2 separate regions of the Homo sapiens genome follow, and region 1 is linked to region 2. The links come from fine-mapping of genetic effects on gene expression. Tissue or cell type: whole blood. Region 2 holds a variant in brackets; the other region holds the start of a gene. All regions are shown on one strand. Distances are from middle to middle.

What was found. PIP is the estimated chance that this variant, and not a neighbour inherited with it, causes the effect.
Region 1: it holds the start of FBXL13, and the variant in region 2 is fine-mapped to the expression of FBXL13 in whole blood (TOPMed, PIP above 0.99).

What each region holds. Positions count from the first base shown.
Region 1 is chr7:103,070,534-103,081,127 of GRCh38, reverse strand. FBXL13 (F-box and leucine rich repeat protein 13) reads left to right here and starts at 6,332. Exons shown (of 21, transcript NM_001394494.2): 1 at 6,332-6,432. The coding sequence starts at 6,358. It overlaps ARMC10 (armadillo repeat containing 10), which reads right to left and starts at 5,988. Exons shown (of 7, transcript NM_031905.5): 1 at 5,717-5,988; 2 at 5,247-5,351. The coding sequence starts at 5,855. RefSeq lists an enhancer at 5,242-5,291 and a silencer at 5,562-6,401.
Region 2 is chr7:102,972,855-102,984,002 of GRCh38, reverse strand. The region is part of intron 7 of FBXL13 (F-box and leucine rich repeat protein 13); the gene reads left to right. It overlaps NFE4 (nuclear factor, erythroid 4), which reads right to left and starts at 10,573. Exons shown (of 3, transcript NR_166512.1): 1 at 10,232-10,573. RefSeq lists silencers at 7,300-7,461, 10,032-10,202 and enhancers at 9,882-10,395, 9,853-11,052. The variant C/T (reference allele first, on the strand shown) is at 5,482.

The sequences.
Region 1 (10,594 bases), 97 kb before region 2:
TGCTAAGTGGGAGTTAATAGTGCCTACCTCAAAGCACTTTTGTACCTAGAATATTTAAAGTGACTAGTATATTATTTTCATTAATGGGACACATAGCTGATTAATAATAGCAAAAGTGGCTTTAGAATCCAGATCTTTTTACTCCTACATTACTCTTTCCTCTCAACCATTATTCCTCCTAGTATATTAATATAATGAGCCTAGCTGAATGCGGTGGCTCACACCTGTAATCCCAGCACTCTGGGAGGCTGAGATGGGCGGATCACGAGGTTAGGAGTGCAAGACCAGCTTGGCCAAGATGCTGAAACCCTGTCTCTACTAAAAATACAAAAATTAGCCAGGCATGGTGGCACATGCCTGTAATCTCAGCTACTCCGGAGGCTGAGGTAGAAGAATTGCTTGAACCTGGGCGGCAGAGGTTGCAGTGAGCCGAGATCCCACCACTGCACTCCAGCCTGGGCAACAGAGCAAGACTCCATCTCAAAAAATAAATGAATAAATAAAAAATAAAATAATGAGCCTATACTTTAATTCTATATATTCTCTTTGAATTTCTAATAAAAACCATTTATCGGCCCAGCACGGTGGCTCACACCTGTAATCCCACCACTTTGGGAGGCCAAGGCAGGCAGATAAGCTGAGGTCAGGAGTTCGAGACCAGCCTGGCCAAGATGGTGAAACCCCGTCTCTACTAAAAGTACAAAAATTAGCCAGCAGTGGTGGCACATGCCTGTAGTCCCAGCTACTCGGGTGGCCGAGGTAGAAGCATCACTTGAACCTGGGAGGCAGAGGTTGCAGTGAGCTGAGATCGCACCACAGCACTCCAGCCTGGGCGACAGAGCAACACTCCATCTCAAAACAACAAAACAAAACAAAAACCATGTATAACTTTTTAGTAAAGAAATGTAAAACTTAAAACTCTAAAAATTTTACAGGAGGGCGATCATCAAATACTCAGCTCTTCCACTGGTGAGTTTTTGGACTGCTATTACACAGGTGAGGAGTCAAACATGTGTTCTACTTTCCATCTAGCTCTGTGCCAACAAGACTGTGAAAGAATCTTAGGCTCGGTGGTTTGTGGTCTCCTCCAGTAAATCAAGGAGAAATTAGAATTCTCAAAGGGAATGAAAAGTGACTACCACATTATAACGTAGCAAGACAAATTTCAAGATAACTGTCATGGTTCAGAATCTTTCCAACTGGGAACACAATATGCCTGTTTATGTAGTCTTAGGCCCTTCAGTAAAATTATCTTCTCACTACAGGAACTCCTAGTTTTTAAAGTGAATTCCTAATTTTTAAAGTTTTTATAGCTATCATGAATGATATATATTTTTTGAAACAGGGTCTCATTCTGTCAAATAAAATATTTTCAATTAAAATTTTGAATTGTTACTGCATGTATACAAGAAGTTATTGATTTGGGTATATTTACTTGTACTCAAGATATTTTATTAAACTCATTGCTTCTAGTAGTTAGTTAATTCTCTTGGATTTTTCCAAGTAAATCATTATGCCACCTACGATTATAATTCTGCCTCCAATATTTATGCATGTTGTTTTCTTATCAAGCTATGACTCCAGAAGAACGTTGAATAGTAGCTGTGATAGCAGACACCCTTCTCTTGTTCTTGAGTTTGATAAGGATGCTACTAACTAGTGTGTCTATTAAATACGATATTTGCTTTTGGGTTTTGATGGATGTACTTGATCAACTTAAGAACATTTCCTTCTATTTATTCCTTACTTGCTGCAAGTTTTTATCAGAAATGATAAAATTTTTTTTCTTTTTTTTTCCCCGAGCTTCAGCTATGGAAAGAAATATTTTAATGCCTTTTTATTATGAGGTCATCATGTGGCTTTTCCTTTTTCTAGTATGACTCCTCCTTCCATGTCCATTTGGCCTTGGTATATTATTACTTTAATCCCCTGATAGATTTGACTTGCTAATATTTTAAGATTTTTATATCTTTATTCATAGTTGAGACAGATTTATAGTTTTTCTTACCATCCTTGTCAGGTTATGACGTTAGATTGTTGGATGAATTGGGACTGTTTCCGTCTTTTTCAATGCTCTCAAACCACGTTAGTACAAAAATTATTTTATTTTTTATTTTTTAAGACAGAGTCTTGCTCTTTTGTCCAGGCTGGAGAGCAGCGGCACAATCACAGCTTACTGCAGCCTTGACCTCCTGGGCTCAAGGGTTTCTCCCAAAACAGCCTCCTGAGTAGCTGGGACTACAAGTGCACACTACCATGCCTGGCTAATTTTTCTATTTTTTGTAGAGATGGGGTTTCACTATGTTGCCCAGCCTGGTTTTGAACTCTGGGCTCAAGCGATTCTTCCACCTCAGCCTCCCAAAGGGATTAGAGGTGTGAGTTTAAAACAAAGAAAAGATCGCCACTGCACTCCAGCCTGGGCAACAGAGCAAGACTCCGTCTCAAAAAAAAACAAAAACAAAACAAACAAAAAACAAAAGATCATCTTCTGAAATCTAAGCGTGATGATGACTTTATTAGTCCATTCTCATGCTGCTATGAAGAACTGCCCGAGACTGGGTAATTTATAAAGGAAAGAGGTTTAATTGATTCACAGTTCCACATGGCTGGGGAGGCCTCAGGAAACTTACAATCATGGTGGAAGGGGAAGCAAACACTTCCTTCTTCATAGGCAGCAGGAAAGAGAAGGAGTGCAGAGCAAAGGGGGAAGCCCCTAATAAAACCATCAGATCTCCTGAGAACTATCACGAGAAGAGCATGGAGGGGAGGGGAACTGCCCCCGTGATTCAATTACCTTCCACCGGGTCCCTCCCACGATGTAGGGATTATGGGATTACAATTCAAGATAACATTTGGGCCGGGCACAGTGGCTGATGCCTGTAATTCCAGCACTTTGGGAGGCTAAGGCAGGCACATCACCTGGCCAACATGGTGAAACCCTGTCTCTACTAAAAATACAAAAAAAATTCGCCAGGCACATGGTGTGTACCTGTCATCTCAGCTACTCCGGAGGCCGAGGCAAGAGAATCGCTTGAACCCATGAGGTGGCGGTTGCAGTGAGCTGAGATCATGCCACTGCACTCCAGCCTGGGAGACAGAGTGCGACTCCGTCTCAAAAAAAAAGAAAAAGATGAGATTTGGGTGGGGACACAAAGCCAAACCATATTGATGATGAAATGAGCATTTCTCAAGTCTTCTTCAATGATAAAGGAGTAGCTTCAGGAAGAAGGGACTGTGAGCAAATTATTTTTTAAGCTGCCTTACCTAAGATAATGATGATTATGGGAACTGTTAAGTTTAAAAGACTGTCCACATTCATCAGATTGAGTCAGTATAACTGAGAAGATATCTGAGTCCAGGACACCTTCCCAATGTACTTATACAAAAATATCTCTGACATGGGCAAAGACAACAAATTAGGCTTTGTAAATGCTATGATTTGAATGTCTCCTGCGAAACTCATGTCGAAACTTAATTCCCAATGTGGCAGTATTGAGAGGTAAGGCCTTTAAGAGGTGACTGGATCATGAGGGGTCTGTCCTCATGAATGAATTAATCCATTCATGGATTAATGAGCAGGACTGGTGGCTTTATAAGAACAAGAGACCTGAGTCAGCATGTTAACACACTTGCCCCTCTGGCCTTGGGATGCCCTATGCCACAACAAGAAAGCCCTTACCAGCTACGGCCCCTCAATCTTGGACTTCTCAGCTTCCATAACTCTAAGAAATAAATTTCTTTCCTAATAAATTACCCAGTTTCAGATATTCTATTATAAGCAACAGAAAATGGACTAATACAGTAAGGGTACATACAAATCTTTAAAAAAAAAAAGCTGAATTATACCTAGTGGCAAAAGTGAGAGAGACCTTCCCCTTCCACTCCCTTTTTCTTAAAGCATTCCCTCGTGCAAACTTGTAATTAAAAATCCTTTATTGGCCAGGTGAGGAGGCTCAATCCTGTAATTCCAGCACTTCGGGATGCTGAGGCAGGAGCACTGCTTAAGCCAAGTTCAAATCAGCCTGGGCAACATGGTGAAAACTCATCTCCTAAAAAATTGGAAAAATTAGCCAGGTGTCGGTGTGCACCTGTAGTCCTAGTTACTTAGTGGGGTGAGGTGGGAGGAGCCCAGGGAAGTGGAGGCTGCAGCTGTGATTGCGCCGCTGCAGCTGTGATTGCGCCACTGCACCGAGCCTGGGTGACAGAGGGAGTCCCTGTCTGAAAACAAAACAAAACTCCTTTTTCTGCTTCTTTGATACAAATGTAAATCTTTTTGTTTGTTTTTTGTTTTTTGAGACAGAATCTTGCTCTGTCGCACAAGCTGGAGTGCAATGGTGCAATCTTGGCACACTGCAACCTCTGCCTCCTGGGTTCAAGTGATTCTCCTGCCTCAGCCTCCTGAGTAGCTGGGATTACAGGCACCCACCGCCAAGCCCGGCTAATTTTTGTATTTTTAGTAGAGATGGGGCTTCCCCATGTTGGTCAAGCTGGTCTTGAACTCCTGACCACATGATCCGCCTGCCTTGGCCTCCCAGAGTGCTGGGATTACAGGTGTGAGCCACCACACCCAGCCTGTAAATCTTTTTAAAAGTGAAATAAGCATTTGGCCAGTTTTACAGCCCAAGAAAGACTTTCTTAAAAGCTTTGGAGCCTACTGTTCGAAAGCGTACTCTTTGAAACCTACTCTTCCAGGAAGATAGATCCCCAATCTCCCCAACTCTGTGAGTTTTTAGCCTGGGCACCTGGTTCCACATCATAAAGATATTTTTATTTTTCCTCTGGATAAAGGCAATTAGATAACAACCACCCCAATTACCAGTAAATTCAGGATAAACTACATGTAGCAAATGGTACTGTCAAGTCCTCTTACCTAAGGACAAATTATTTTTTATCTTGAGAACACGTATGTAATATGAAATCGGTTCTATCTGTCCAGCTACATTTAAAGGAATTAGAATTCTTCCTGCTATCCCATTAGCAAATTGCCCGTGATGTGTGAGGCAATTTAGTTTGTGCTTATTCAACAATGAAGCTGTTTAGCTCTCTTCTACAATTGTGGACAGGAGTTTCTTGGATGGCAGATATGATATTTTAAATTATTTCCCTAACAGCTTCCATGATGTGAAACATGCCTTTGGAGGGTTTTAATGTACCGATCAACTTTTGGACAGAAACCGAATCATGCATTTGTCCGCTGGGAGGGTGTGTCTCGCGCAGACAACTGTTCCCATTTCCAAAACACACACCAGGCTGCGAGGTCTTGGACCACTGTGACTCCCAGGTACCTCCCGTCTGAGGCCGGGCCGAGCGCCCGCACAACTGACCCTCTGACGTCCCTTCTTCCAGGGCACCTGCAAGCAGAGATTGACCTATGGCTCTGGGCCCCTCAACAGCCCTTCCACAATCGGGAGAATCCCTTTAGTTACACAAAGGCCCGGAGCAAGCTTTAAAATGAGAGGCCATCAACAGGTTTTTAAGAAATCTAATCCTCCGCTGTGACGCGGAGCTCAGGCAGGAAAGCCAGGGCAAGTTTTCATACCAGTATAGTCAGCAAAGGGGCGGCGGGGGCGGCGCAGCACCCTGCACTCACACAAGTACTGCCTCTCCCTCTAGCTCGGCTCCTCATTTTACCCCGAGCACACGCAAGCCACCACCCCGGCCTGGGGAGCCCCCCTGCCCAGTCCCCGCCCACCTGCCGGAAACCCCGGGGTCCCACCTGCGGACTTCGAAGAGCGTATCCCGAGCTCGCGGTCGCCCCGCCGCCGACCCCGGGTCAGCCTGTAAATGCAGTAGCAGGCGCCCGCGCCGAGCAGCAGGCCCGCCGCCACCCAGCCCGCGCCCCGGGGGCCACCCATGCTGCCGCCGCGGCAGAGCCGCAGCGCCGGGCCAGGGCAGGAGGCTCGCGGGGGCCAGCGCGGAGGTCTCCAGCGCACGCGGGCCTAGCCGCCACAGCAAACGCCACCTGACCTGGATGTGGAGAAAGGAAATGGGGTCTGAGCTCCGCCTCCCGGAAACGGCCTAGCTCAAAGCCTATAACCGCCCACTCCAGCCCGGCGCGTCCCGGCGGCTTCTCCCAGGCGAGGCGGGGCGGTGCGGGGCGCTGCACACCGGGAGGGGGGGGTCGGACGGTGCGCCCCACGCGGAGACGCCGGGGCCCGCAACCCAGAGCCGAGCTTCCCGTCTCTTCCCCCGGGGCGTGAAGCAACCATTCCTCCCTCCCGCCCCTGGCAGCGGAGCGCGGGGCGGTGCCACGCCCAGCCCCGCCCCCTGGTTGCCGGGACAACGCCCGCACGCGCCCGGCCCCTAGTCCCAGCGCGGGGAGGGTACTATCGCAGCTTCTCCGTCAGGCCTTGGGCCATGGCCTCGCTACGCAATGCCAACCCGAGGCTGAAGAACTACTTCAAGGAGAACTACATTCCTCAGGTCTGCGAGGTACTGGACACGCGTGGCAGCGGACACAGACCGTCGGTGGGGAGTTAGAAGGGGGAGGAGTCAGGAAAGACTTCCCGGAGGAGGGACTAGGTTTCGGGATTGGGGAGGAGTGGAGGGAAGGCGGGGCAGAATGCGAGAAAGTGAAGTCAAATTCGGACTTGTAGGCGATCAGGGCTGAAGACGCTGATTAGAGAGAAAACAGAGGGTGATGGTGGCTGCACGTGGGGAATGGGTGACATCTCCCAGGGGGAATGAGCACAAGGCCCAGATCGGAAACCCCAAACTCAGATTTTAAGGTTTGGACAAGAAGTACCTGAGGAGTGGAGGAGTGAGAAAGAAGTGCCAGAGAGCCTGAGGAGGAAAATCAGCAGACTGGCATTATGAAGAATGTTGTCAGAAGTAGGGAGTAGGCACTAGTCACCTAAGATAAGGAGCTGGATTCTGCCCAAGGTGAGCCTGAGGTTTCCATGGAGCCGTGAGGGCAGAAAATAGATGGAGGTTAGCGGAGGGAAGAGTGGAAGCTGAGACCTTTGGTCAGTGTAGTCAGCCCTTTGTGAAGGTAAGGACCCTCTCAACCAGGATTGCCTTTAGACAACAGGAAGGACTGCCCTCCTACTGCCGTTATAAGAGTAGGGAAGGAAGACAGGAAGGGGATAGACATTAGGTTTTGTAGGTTTGGGGGTAGGAAGCTGAGAACATTTGCCTTTGTTGACCTCTTTTTTTCTCTACAAATAGTTGGTGAGATATTTACCAAGAATGTGCGTGTTTGAGTGGGGATGGGGATGTTGGTGCAGTAGGAGGTTCGAGCAAAGATACGTTATGTGGAGAATGAGGGAGAGAGATGTCTAGGGAAAGAAAGAGGAGGTCCTACCTGAGGGTAGTAACGCTCCTAGGCGGTTGGGAGGGCAATTTGGTAGAGACCCCCCACCCGTCTCTTTTTTGGATGGTAATTGAGAAATATTTATTAAGATGTTAAATACATGTACCCTTTAACCAAGCATTTCTACTTCTAGGGATCTACTTTAGAGAAATACTTGCACATGTGTTCAGGAGGATGTACAAGGATATTCATTATAACTTTGTTTCATAGTAAAAATAGTAAATGACCTAGAGTGACTAAGCGAATGAGGCATTATGTAGAATAAAGTATATCTGTACCTACTAAGAAGAAATGTCCTCCAAGACATATTATTATTATCATCATTATTATTGAGACACGGGGTGTTGGTCTGCCACCCAGGCTAGGGTGTAGTGGCTCCATCCTAGCTCACTGCAGCCTCAAACTCCTGGGCTCAATTGATCCTCCCACCTCATCCTCCCAAGTAGCTAGGACTACAGGCATACACCACATGGCTGGCTCCCAACACATATTATTAAGTAAAAAAGAAAAAGTGCAAGTTGCTTAGCAACTGTCCATTCTGCTCTAGCTGTCCATTTGATTTCATATATGTTGTATATGTGTTTATGTACATATATGTGTATATATCTAGCTTTAAGACAATAGTGCATGCATAGAACCTATGCCAAACTGTTAATAACAGATGTCTTGTGGAATGGTTTTGGGGGAAAAGATGGAGAATTCTAACTTTTTACTCTGTCCATAGCTGTATTGTTTTAATTTATTACAGTGAGTTTTGTGTTGTACCTCTATACAATTGTGCTTGAAAATATGTAGGGAGAATGGTACCCATCTTCCCGGTTGTGTGATTTTCTCAAGTAGCAGTCAGTAAATCAGATGTAGGTACAGAGATAACCAAGTTGACTTCGTCTGGGATAGGAATTTGCCAGGCATATATTAATAGAATGGAAAGGCAGTAGGTTAGGGAGCTAAGCTCCTGAGTATCTGAAGTGATGGGCCAAGGACTCTAAGGACTCAGTGGGAAATGAGAAAAGGATATCATACTGATACATGGACAGAAAGTGAAGACTCCTCTAAGAGGTGAGTGAAGAGAAGTAGAGGGAGTAATTAAGTGAGGGAGCTGGAAACACAGGAGGTGGGGGTCAGAAAGTGGAACGTTTATATTTACAATTCAGGGTGCAGCCATTCTGAGTGATGGCTCAGTCTGTGATATGGCGGTGGAGCAGGTGGCAGAAATGGACTTGAGTTGAGAGTCAGGGTACATCAAGGAAGGGATGGCCTCTTCTCATCTAGGCCGCCAGTTACTATAACATCACAAAGCTGCAATGAGGCAGTCCCCAGTTCCCCCTCTGGGTGAAAGCATTCCTTCCTTACCAGCTTACTGCATTGTTCTGCACCCATAGAGGAGGCCCTTATATGCATTCTCCATTGTCTAAGATCATGTTCTCCTGAGGAGTCCTTCACTCACCTCTGCTAGCACACTAGCAGGAAGTGCAAAGGAGCAATCCTCTGGGCCCCACACACCCACCTTAAACTCATTACCCATTTCTTCTAAGAGAATATCAAGATGAATTCCATTCTGCCTCATATCCTGTCTGTACATTTATTTATCTGACTCAATTTCCCAGATGGGTTTTATACTTTTTTTTTTTTTGAGACAGAGTCTAGCTCTGTCGCCCAGTCTAGAGTGCAGTGGTGCCATCTCAGCTCACTGCAACATCCGCCTCCTGGGTTCAAGCGATTCTCCTGCCTCAGCCTCCCAAATAGCTGGGACTACAGGCACCTGCCACCATGCTCAGCTAATTTTTGTATTTTTAGTCGAGACAGGGTTTCACCATGTTGGTCAGGCCGGTCTCGAACTCCTAACCTCAGGTGATCCACCCGCCTCAGCCTCCCAAAGTGCTGAGATTACAGGCATGACCCACCACAGCATGACCCACCATGTCTGGCAGGTTTTATACTTTTCTAAAACCCATCTTCTGCAAGCCTTGGAATACATAAATAACCTTTCATTAAAGTTTTCCCTGTATATTTAACCTCTTCTGAATTTCATCTACCTGTCCTAAATAAAACCTGATTTTCTACCTACAATATCATTTTCCTGCAAATCTCTTGAATAGAGACTGATTTTTTTAAAAATCAGGCCTGGCTTGGTGGTTCATGCCTGTAATCCCAGCACTGTGAGAGCCCAAGGCAGGTGGATTGCTTGCCAGGAGTTCAAGACCAGCCTCGGTAACATAGTGAGACCCTGTGTGTACAAAAATTAAAAAAAAAAAAAAAAAAAAGCTAACTTGTCTTAGTGGCTCACACCTGTAGTCCCTGCTACTCATGAGGCTGAGAGGAGAGGATCACTTGAGCCCAGGAATTTGAGGCTGCAGTGAACTATGATTGCACCACTGAACTCCAGCCTGGGTGATGGAGCAAGACCCTATCTCTAAAAAAATAAAAAATTAAAAAACATTTTAAACAATCCTGCTTGGTCCCCTGGGCTTACTGAATCTGTTGATAGATATTTTTCATCCGTTTTAGAAAATTCTTGGTTCTTTTCAAATAGTACTTCTATTCAGTTCTCTCTTTTCCTTTTGGAACTCCAATCGTACATATGTTAGCTTTTTTTTTCTTTTTCTTTACCTTGTTCTACATGCCTCTTTTGATCTCTTCTGCTTTTTCCCCATTTTCTTCTTTTTGAGCTCAAGTTTGGATCTTTTTCATTGATGGTTTTCAAGTTTACTAATTTTGTTTTATGCTGTGTCCAGTCTACTCTTAAATACATCAAATGAAATCTTAATTTTAGACATGTTTTTCAGTTCTAGAATGACAATTTGATGTTTAAATAAATTCTGATTATTAGAATTATGCATCTTTTCATTCAGTTTGCCTTTTTCTGTTTTCTTTATTTGTTCTCTCCAAATCTGTTAAAATTTGATCCCCAGTGTTGGAGGTGGGGCCCAGTGGGAGGTATTTGAGTCATGTGGGCAGATCCCTCAAGAATGGCTTTGTGCCCTCCCCTGTGATAATTAGTGAGTTCTCCCTCTATTAGTTCACCCAAGAGCTGGTTGTTTAGAAGAGCCTCCCTCTAGCTGTTTCTCTTACTCCTTCTCTTCCCATGTTACATGCTGGCTCCCTTTGCCTTCTGCAGTGAGTAAAAGCTTCCTGAGGCCTTCGCCAGAAGCCGAGCAGATGCTGGCACCATGCTTCTTGTACACCCTGCAGAACCCTGAGCCGCATACAACTCTTTTCTTTATAAATTACCTGGCCTCAGGTATTTCTTTATAGCCGTGCAAAATGGATCAACACACATGT
Region 2 (11,148 bases):
TAGGTTGGCTTGTTGCTCCTAATGTCACGAACAAAGTATTGAAAGAAAAGAAGGAGCTCAGGAATTCAAATTTCCAGCTCAAGTACTGCATAAATGACTGAAAGCTTCCACATGTGCCCTGAGGGAGAGTCTTATCTCCTTTAGCCACAGGGCTGAGATTCCTGAAAATCAAATGCAGAATCTCATCCTGTGACCCAGTTTTACAGTTATCTTATCTCATCCGGTGACCCACTTTTATACTCTGTTAAAGTGAAGGCGTTGACTGGGAAAGAATGGGTTTCTTGCTGGGTGCGGTGGCTCATGCCTGTAATCCTAGCACTTTGGGAGGCCAAAGCAGGCAGATCACTTGAGGTCAGGAGTTTAAGACCAGCCCCGGCCGACATGGTGAAACCCCGTCTCTACTAAAAATACAAAAATTAACTGGGCATTGTGGTAGGCACTTATAAAACCAGCTACTCCAGAGGCTGAGGCAAGAGAATTGCTTGAACCTGGGAAGTGGGGTTTTCTGTGAGCTGATATCACACCACTGCACTCCAGCCTGGGTGACAGAACGAGACCCCACTCAAAAAAAAAAAAAAAAGGGGAAAAAAGAAAACCAGAATGGGTTTCTATAAGTTGGAATGGGGACTTGTGGGAAGACCTTGATGAAACTGAGGACATTGAGCCTCTAACTTCTGGTGAGTCTTCTTTGCTAGTGGAAGAGGCAATCCTACTGCTAGTGGAAGTGGCCTCCGCACTCCCAGTGCTAGTGGCTTCTCCACCTCAGAAGGTGGTTAATGCTACACTGCATGAGGAAATTGTAATGGCCTCCACTGAGGCAGTTGCCAAGCAAGACAATATTGATTTTTCTTAGAACTCACCCCTACCACCCCTCTTTGCTTCTAGTCTCATAATTAGACTCAAGTCCCAGCAGGCCTTTGAAGGTGTGGGACAAAATGTGACCCATGAGAAAGTGCACTACACTCCAAAAAAAACTACTTGAGTTTTCTAACTTATACAGACTGAAATCTGAAAAATATGTGGAAATGGATAATGAGGGTATGGGATAATGGTAGAAAGAAGATAAAGTTGGAAGACGCTGAGTTTATTCACATGAGTTCTCTAAATAGAGATTCTGCATTTATATTTTGGCACAAGGAGTTAGAAAGGGCTCTAAAGCTTGTATTAGTCTGTTCTCATGCTGCTAATAAAGACATACCCAAGACTGGGTGGGTAATTTATAAAGGAAAGAAGTTTAATGGACTCACAGTTACACATGGCTGGGGAGGCCTCACAATCATGGTTGCAAATGAAAGAATAGCAAAGGGACATCTTACATGGTGGCAGGCAAGAGAGCTTGTGCAGAGGAACTTCCATTTATAAAACTTCACAGCAAAAGAAATGCCTCAATGGGTCCATGCTCCTGGAATTCACTGGTTTTTACAGTGAACACAGTTACACTGTAGTTTTTACCACTACTCTGAAGTAGCTGGTTTGACAGAATGGTGAAGTGGCCTTTGGAAGACTCAATTCCAGTGCCAACGATGGGAGAGTACCTTGCAAGGCTGGGGCAAAGTTCTCTAGGAATCTGTATATACTCTGAATCACAGTCCAATATATGATACTCTTCCTTCCATAGTCAAGATTCTTGGGTCCAGGAATCAAGGGTTGGAAATGGGAGTGGCACACTCACTATTACCCCTAGTAACCTACTAGCAAAAATTTTGCTTTCTGTTTCCATAAGCTTATGCTGCTAACCTAGAGGTTTTGGTTCAAAAAGGAGGAATGTTTACACCAGGACGCACAATGATAGTTCTATCGAACTAAAAGTTAAGACTGCCACCCAACCACTATGAACTCCTCATGCCCCTGAATCAACAAGCGAAGAAGGGAATTACTGTGTTGGGTGGAGTAATTGACCCTAACTATCAAGGAGAAGTGGGACTGCTACTCCACAGTGGAGGAAAAAGAAGAGTGTATCTATATGTGCCCGGGATCCAGTGTTTGAATGCTGGGCTGTAACCCAGCATTGACCTCGTGATCTGCCCCCCTCAGCCTCACAGAGTGCTGGGATTACAGACCCATTTGGACCTGTATAGTCAAAATAATATTTTGGCTTTTAATGGAATTTGGGAAACATAGTTGCTATAGACTGAATGTTTATGTCCCGCAAAACTCAGACGTTGAACCTAATCCCCAATATGATGGTATTTGCAGGTGACGTCTTTGGAAATGATTAAGCCATGAGGGCAAAGCCCTCATGAATGGGATTAGTGCCCTTATAAAAGGGATCCCAGATTCTCCTTGGTCCTACTGCCATGTGTGGACACAGTGAAATGACTGTGTATAAACCAGGAAGTGGGCTCTCACCAGACACTGAATCTGCTGGAGACTTTATCTTAGGCCTCCAGCCACTAGCACTGTGAGAAATAAAATCCTCTTGTTTATAAGTTACTCAGTCTATAGTACTCAGTTTTAGCAGCTCAAATGGACTAAGACAATAGGAGAATGCTCTTTAGGATACTATCTTCTAGAGAAAGTATGTCTTCTTTGAGAACAAGTCTGTGGGATGAGAGACTGGCCTGTGTGCAATGTCAGAAAAAGAGGTGGGTAAGGGGGGGAAAGGTGTGCAGGCAATGGGAGATGGGTACATACAGGGGAATAGATCAAATAAGTAAAAATTTTAGGAAATTCGGAGCCAGATTTCTTGGACTAGAAAGTATTTACCAGTATAAAAAGGAAGAACATTAAAATGGACCCTTTTAAACAAGTCATTTGTTCTTTCTCTGTATGCTCAGAAAATTGATTCTATATTTCTACTACTTTTCTGTGCTGCCACTTTTCTTTTCTAGTTGCTTTTACCTCTCTGAACATAGGACTAATTACAATAGTTCCTCTGTCTTCAAAAATATCCTACAAGTACAGTAGGTACAAAACTACAAGTACAGCTTTCAGGCCACCTGATCCAACATAATACCTTTCCAAGGCTTGTTGGCCATTTCAACAACTCATTTAATTGCTGGCATTTTTCTTGCCCTCCCAGTACATACAGGCAAAAAGTGAAGTCTTTACTTTCTTTATCATGTTCTTTGACACACAAGGTTTTCATTTTGATGAACTCTTATTTATTTTTTCCTTTGTTTCTCATGCTTTTGGTGTCATATTCTTTGTTAAACGCAGGGTCATGAAGATTTATTTATCCCTATTTTTTTGATAAGAGTTTATGGTTTTAGCTCTTTTTTTTTTTGAGATGGAGTCTCGCTCTGTCGCCCAGGCTGGAGTGCAGTGGCACGATCTCAGCTCACTGCAAGCTCTGGCTCCCAGGTTCACACCATTCTCCTGACTCAGCCTCCTGAGTAGCTGGGACTGCAGGTGCCCACCACCACACCCGGCTAATTCTTTGTATTTTTAGTAGACCTGGGGTTTCACCATGTTAGCCAAGATGGTCTCAATCTCCTGACCTCGTGATTCGCCTGCCTCAGCCTCGCAAAGTGCTGGGATTACAGGCGTAAGCCACCGCACCCGGCTGGTTTTAGCTCTTATATTTAGGTCATTTATCTCATTTTGACTTCATTTTGCTATATGGTGTAAGGTAGAGGGTCCAAACTCATTCTTTTACATTTGGATACCCAGTTGTCCCAGTCCCATTTATTTAAAAGACTTTTTTCCCCCCATTGAATGTTTTGCCACACTTGTTGAAAATCACTTGGCCATGATGTATGGATTTATTTCTGGTCTCTCAGCTCTATTCCATTGGTCTATATGTCTATCCTGTACCTTGATATTTTGATTACTATATCTTTGTAGTAAGTTTTCAAATCAGGAAATGTGAGTCCTCCAACTTTGTTCTTTTTCAAAATTGTTTTGGCTACTTGTGACTCCTTGCACTTACTGCAAATTTGAGGGTCAGATTTTTCATTTTTGCAAAAAAAGCCTTTGAAATTTTTATAGGGATTACATTGAATCTATAGATCACTTTAGATAGTATTGACATCTTAGTATTTTTATTGTTTGTAGGGTCTGTTCTTTGGATATTTGATAGAATGGTCTTATAAAACTCTTGGCCCATGTTTGTTTGGTGTTTATTCAGAGGCAGATTTTAAATTCTGATTCAATTTCTGTTATCATTGTTATGTCTTCCAATCCATGAACATGGGATGTCTTTCCATTTGTTTAGGCCTTTTTACATTTTTTTACAGCAATGTTTTGTAATTTTCAGTATGCTAGTCTTTCACCTTTTTAGTTAAATTAGTTAAATTTATTCCTAAGTATTTTTATTAAAAAGTGAGATTATTCAATAAAATATTTCAGGCATGCAAAGAAATTTAATGAGCAACTGTACACTCACCACCCAGTTTAAGAAATAAAACATAACATACAATTAAAGCCTCCATGACTGCATTCTCTTTTCTCCCTCAGAGGTATTTGCTGTCTTAAATTTAGTGTTTATTATTCCCTCATATAGTATGGTAGGTAGAACATTACCCCACCCCCTACAAAGATGTCCATATCCCAGTCCTCAGAACCTGTGAGTATGTTACCTTACGTGACAAAAGAGTCTTCTCAGATTTGATTAAATCAAGAATTTTGAAATGGGGAGATTATCCTGGATTATCTGGGTGGATCTAATAAAATCACAAAGGTATTTATAAGTAAAAGAGAGAGGCAAGACTTCTTAGAATGCATCTCTCCAAGGGCCAGGTAAGCCCTAGCATCTCCAGCTTTTATGACCTAGACATGTCTCCAAGGTCCTGGGACCCATTTCTTCTTGAAATGTAAATTAGGGATCTTCCTGACACCTTGGAATCTTGACTAATCCAGGCTGTGACCATTTGACTTTCTTGGGGAGGTAAGAGAAGTTTTATTATTCTTTTGGATCAGAGCAATTAACTGTTTGTCAGACAAATAACTATTTGTCTACGAATAACTACAGATCTAATTTCAATAGTAGGTGGAAAGTAAAATGTTTGTAAAGTAAGTGAAGGGTAAAATTACCTATCTTTATATCATGTAGATTTCCATGCCTCTGGAGGCTAGTGCTTTTTACAGGAGCACTGAGAAATCGAAGACTTATTTCCTTGCATTGATCTATCAAGTATTGAGATCGTTTTGATATTATCTTTCATTATGATTGTGGATTTGTCAGATTCTCCTTGTCACTTTGTGGCTTTGTTATTAGATGCTTGCATAGTTAGGATTGCTATAATCTCTAGTGAATTGCTACCTTTAATTATTATGTAGTCACCCTCTTTGTGAGATAAACTTTAAAAATCCAACTAAAATACAATACAAAACTGAAGGATTCTTGTATCAGTTCAAACCCCGAGAGTGTGCCAACAGACAACACGAGGCAGTGTGGAGCAACACGCTGTTTTAATGAGTACCTGGGTGCAGGCAGGCTGAGGCCTAAAATGGCGTCAGCACCAAATGAGTAGGGGGCAGGGGTTTTATAGTCTCCTGTAAACAGGAAATGTCCCAGTCTGATGTAACTGCTATGTGGTA[C/T]CTGGATGGCCTCTTTCTCAATCTTCAGGGGTACGTGTCTCCCAGTCAGAGTAGGTGTCTTCTGGCCGGCTCTCTTCCTGCTTCTGCTATCTTGCTGACTCACACTGCTGGCACAAGTGGCCTTGCGCCTTGGGACTGGGCCTGAGAAGGGAGGAGTTATTCATTCCTTCAAGCTTTCAGGCCCTGGGGAGAATCCTTCATTCCTTTCTATTTGGTTATAGAAAAAAGGGAAAAAGGGTGACTTTCTCAATAACTACTTTAGGCATGACATAGGGGGTGGCGTGGGCACCTTGGAAAAAGAAAACCTTAATTTTTTTGGTATTCTTGAGAGACAGGTTAGTATCCATCTTGTCATTGTAGCAGGAGCATTGTCTGGATTGTCTGGCAGTTAATTGTAGTTTCTTTTTCTTTTATTATTATACTTTAAGTTTTAGGGTACATGTGCACAACGTGCAGGTTAGTTACATATGTATACATGTGCCACATGTGCCATGTTGGTGTGCCGCACCCATTAATTCGTCATTTAACATTAGGTATATCTCCTAATGCTATCCGTCCCCTCTCCCCCCACCCCACAACAGGCCCCGGTGTGTGATGTTCCCCTTCCTGTGTCCATGTGTTCTCATTGTTCAATTCCCACCTATGAGTGAGAATATGCAGTGTTTGGTTTTTGTCCTTGCGATAGTTTGCTGAGAATGATGGTTTCCAGCTTCATCCATGTCCCTACAAAGGACATGAACTCATCATTTTTTATGGCTGCATAGTATTCCATGGTGCATATGTGCCACATTTTCTTAATCCAGTCTATCATTGTTGGACATTTGGGTTGGTTCCAAGTCTTTGCTATTGTGAATAGTGCCACAATAAACATAGTTAACTGTAGCTTCAACAAGAGTTTTAATGGCTTTTATTATCAGTGGGATAACACGGGAGAAAAAGGAGGAGCCCAATGATGAAGATTACTGTCCTTATCAGCATTTTAAATCCTTCTAAATTAGAGAAACATCCTCCTAGAAGGTTTGCCAGGTCCCATCCTTTCCAGGTTTGGACTGGTACATGGGCTACTTTTCTGATGTTTGAAGCGATTTCTAGAACTGCTTTTCCATTATTGTCTATGTTAAGACAACAATTGGAGACATTAAAGTTACCACAGACTCCACCCTCTTCTGCTAATAAGTAGTCTAGTGCTAGCCTGTTTTGATAAATTGCCACGCACATTTGTTTTTGTCGTTGTGCGAGCATTTCCAGGACGGAGGCGGTTTGGTTAGTGATTATCTCTAGAACAGCCTGTAGCCTTAATTATTCTATTTAGCATATATATGGGAGTGCGATAACCCCATGAACCATCCTCCGCCCAAGTGGCAGGACCATAATATTCGATGATCCATTGCAGGGGCCACTCGTCCTCTTGCCGTCTTTGGCTTCCTCCTACCTTTAAGGATCGTTTTTCTCTGTTTAAGTGATCATACACAGGGACTCCATGGGTGTTGGGGTTTTCCCATGTAAAGGCAAAGAGGTTTTGGGAATCAGGGTGTAATGGAATTGTGAAAAAAGCATCCTTTAGGTCTAGAACAGAAAAATGGGTGGTATTGGAGGGAACTGCAGAAAGTAAAGTATATGGGTTAGGAGCTACTGGACATACTGGGAGTACAGCTTGGTTAATAAGCCTGAGGTCCTGGACTAAGCGATAAGTTCCATCTGGTTTTTTAACAGGTAGAATTGGTGTGTTAAAAGGGGAGTATGTTGGGCGGAGTAGGTGACTGGCGAGGAGGTGAGAAATGATAGGCGTTAGGCCTGTGAGAGCTGCTTGGGGGATGGGATACTGCTTCTGTGATAGGAACTGGGTGGGCTCTTTAAGGGTAATGTGGACGGACGGGAGTGTGGTGTTTTGCGACTGAGGGTGTGGAATTACCCCAAACAGGGGGGCTAACTACAGATGGGGGATAAGGAAAGGTTGCATGTTTTAAGGTGGGAGGTTGGAATAGAAGAAAGAAGCCCCAGAGGGGTTTGGGTTGATGCGTTGGGTATTATGGGGAACGTGGAAGTGGAGAGCAGTGTGGAGTTTTGAAAGGATGCCTTGGAGCGGAGTTGGGCATGAGGGCAGGACTAAGAAAGAGTGAGTGAAGGAAAAGGTGTGCAGGGAGCAGAAAAGTGGAGCGGGGGGCTCAGGGTTTGGAGGCTTGTTCATCAATTTCCACAATAGAGACTTGGGAGGACTGGGTGGGTCCTGAAAAATTAGGGAAAGCAGAATAGGTTGCCCTGGTATTAATTTTAAAAACATACTGGCCTACCTGCCACCATCAGGGTTACCCTTGGCTCAGATGAAGCGATGGTAGTTGCTGGGGTGTCTGTTCCAAGGCACTATCAGTCTTCAGCGGCAAGGCTGACGAGATCCGAGTAGGAGGGTTTGATTGGCTCAGGAAGGGATGGGGGTGGTCCTTGCAGGGGCCGCTCACAGTCCAACTTCCAGTGGGGTCCTCCGCAGAGGGGGCATGGCCTCGTGGGTTTACCTGGGTTTGGGCATTGTGTGGGCCAGTGGCCTTCATTGCCGCACTTGAAGCAGGCACCAGGTGGAGGTGGATTGCTAGGAGGCTTCTGTGTGGAGCTGTGGCCCCATGGCCTGCAGGGCCCCTGATGGAGGAGGCAAGCATTTGAAACCCTGCCTGTTTTTGCCTTTTACTTTCCTCATCACGATTGTTAAAGACTTTGAAGGCTAAATTAAGAAAGTCTCGTTGTGGGGTTTGAGGGCTGTTGTCAAGTTTTTGAAGCTGGCGCTGAATATTGGGGGTGGATTGGGAGATGAACTGAAGGTTTAAAATATCGGTTCCTTCTGGACTGGCTAGGTCTAGGTTGGTATATTTTCTCATGGCTTCAGTTAAACGAGAGATAAAAAGGGCTGGGTTTTCGTTAGGACCTTGGGTGATTTCTGAAAGTTTTTCATAGTTTACCACTTTATGGGCAGCCTTTTTGAGTCCTGCAAGGAGGCACACAATCATGTGGTCTCGACAGCAGCGTCCAGAGGCCCCATCTTGATAATCCCAGTGGGGGTCCTGGTTGGGGACTGCCTTTGCACCAGTAGGCTGAGCAGGAGCTTGGTGATGAATTGTATCAGCATGTACCTGAGTTAGGGTCCAGATACAGCCCCAGTCTTCTGGGGTGAGGGTGGAAGAGAGGATAATGTAGAGGTCATGCCAAGTTAGTTCATAAGACTGGGTGAGGTACTGAAACTCTCTAATGTAAGAGGTAGGGTCTTCTGGAAATGAACTGAGTCTTTTGTTAATTTGAGAGAGATCACTGAGGGAGAGGGGAACATAAACTTTAACAATGCCTCCAGTTCCTGCTACTTTCTGAAGGGGGCTCTCTAGCACAGGGGCTGAACTAAGGGTGGGGCATGGGCCAAAGATGGTGCCTGAGCGAGTATGGGTGGGAGAGAAGGAAGAACCTGAAAGTGGTTCCTGCTGAGGGTTTGAAGGGGGAAGGAGGGTTAAGTTGATAGGCAGTGGAGGATAGATAGGGGCGTAAGGTGGTGGGATGGGTTTACAGGCTTCAGGAGAGGGCAGTGAGGAAGGAGAATGAGTAATGAGTACAGACAATGCTAGAATTGTCCTGAGGAGAGGACAGTGTAGGAAAAGAAGTGGATACTGCTGCTTGGGAAGATGGGGGCTGGGAAGATGGCGACTGGGAAGATGAAGGCTGAGAAGATCGCAGCTGAGAAGATAAAGAGGAGGCTTAGGGGGTTAAAGAAGACGGCTGAGAGGGAGAGGCAGGGGCTGAGAGGAATGGACAGCAGTCTGCTGGATCTAACGAGGAAAATATGTCGAGTTGGGAGGAGAAAGGTGATCTGGGTGGCGAGAATAGAGGAGGATTTGAACAGGTGAGCAAGAATTACAGAGGTCGGGTTGTGATCTGAGTGCAAACAGGGCTGGACATAAGGAGTTTTTCCCCATTTCTCCAGTCGTCAGCAATAATTGCTTAAATCAGTTAAAATTGTAAAGTCGAATGTTCTATTTGCGGGCCATTAGGACCCATTATTCAATTCGTATTGTGGCCAGTCTGAATTGCAAAAAAAGACAAGGAGGATGGATATCTTGCCTGAGGCCTAAGGTTTGCAGGTTTTTGTTTGTTTGTTTGTTTTACGGACTCTCACTCTGTCGCCCAGGCTGGAGTGCAGTGGTGTGATCTTGGCTCACTGCAAGCTCTGCCTCCCGGGTTCACACCATTCTCCTGCTTCAGCCTCCTGAGTAGCTGGGACTACAGGTGCCTGCCACCATGCCCGGCTAATTTTTTGTATTTTTAGTAGAGCCAGGGTTTCACCGTGTTAGCCAGGATAGTCTTGACCTCCTGACCTGGTGATCCGCCCACCTCACCCTCGCAAAGTGCTAGGATTACAGGCATGAGCCACCGCACCTGGCCAGGTTTACAGGTTTTTTATGAGGCAGCCTAGAGGGCTGTTTTTTGGAATTGAGGATGGGGAGTTTCCCATAACTGAGGGTAGGCTCGGGAAAACAGGGAAAAAGGAGACCATCCTGGATGGTGGAGGGAGACGATGAAAGGAGCGATCGTCACCGCTGCCTTTTTCGTTCCCGGAACGGGATCAAATGGCTTAGAGGCGTCCCCCTAAGACCAGATGATCAGCAAGTACCTGGCACACGTCGGAGCCTTCTTGGACCAATGTTGGATTTTCAGACTGGAGAAACCAAGAGAGGCTGTATGGATTTTTCCTTGTTAACCGGGCTCCCGGGAAACTTACCAGTAGGTGAGATCAGTGACTGATGTGCATGCACAGAGAAGCAACTGGAGGCTGAGGAGCTTCCTTTGTCCGGCTGCTGTGGCCTGCTTTCTGGGGCGGAGGGGTAGGTCCACGGGGGACGAAGACCGGAGCCCCTCCCGGGTTTCGGCACCAGATGAAAGATTCTTGTATCCGTTCAAACTCTTGAGAGTGTGCCAACAGACAACACGAGGCAGTGTGGAGCAACCTGCTGTTTTAATGAGCGCCTGGGTGCAGGCAGGCTAAGGCCTAAAATGGCGTCAGCACCAAATGAGTAGGGGGCAGGGTTTTATAGTCTTCCGTAAACAGGAATTGTCCCAGTCTGATGTAACTGCTATGTGGTACCCAGATGGCCTGTTTCTCGATCTTCAGGGGTACGTGTCTTCCGGCCAGGGTAGGTGTCTTCTGGCCGGCTCTCTTCCTGCTTCTGCTATCTTGCTGACTCACGCTGCTGGTACAAGTGGCCTTGTGCCTTGGGACTGGGCCTGAGAAGAGAGGAGTTACTCATTCCTTCAAGCTTTCGGGCGTTGGGGAGAATCTTTCAAAAACAAAATGAACACAAATGAAAGGAAGGCTGATAACCATCATTTTACTCGTTACTTCCGTAAGTCCAACATTTTAAAATTTCACATAGAAGTGAAATCATGGAGAATTTGTCTTTCCGTGCCTGAAAGTGTAGATTTTAAATGTTTTCTTCACACACAAAAATGATAATTATGTGAGGTGGTGATTTCTTAATTATTAACCTGATTTAATCATTCCACATTATAAACATAAATCAAAACATCACATTTTAACCATAAATGCATTTTAATTATTATTTGTCAATTAAAAATAAAACTAAGAAAAGAAAATAGATAGCTACATTAATATTGGGGGAAAAACATTAAAGCAAAAAG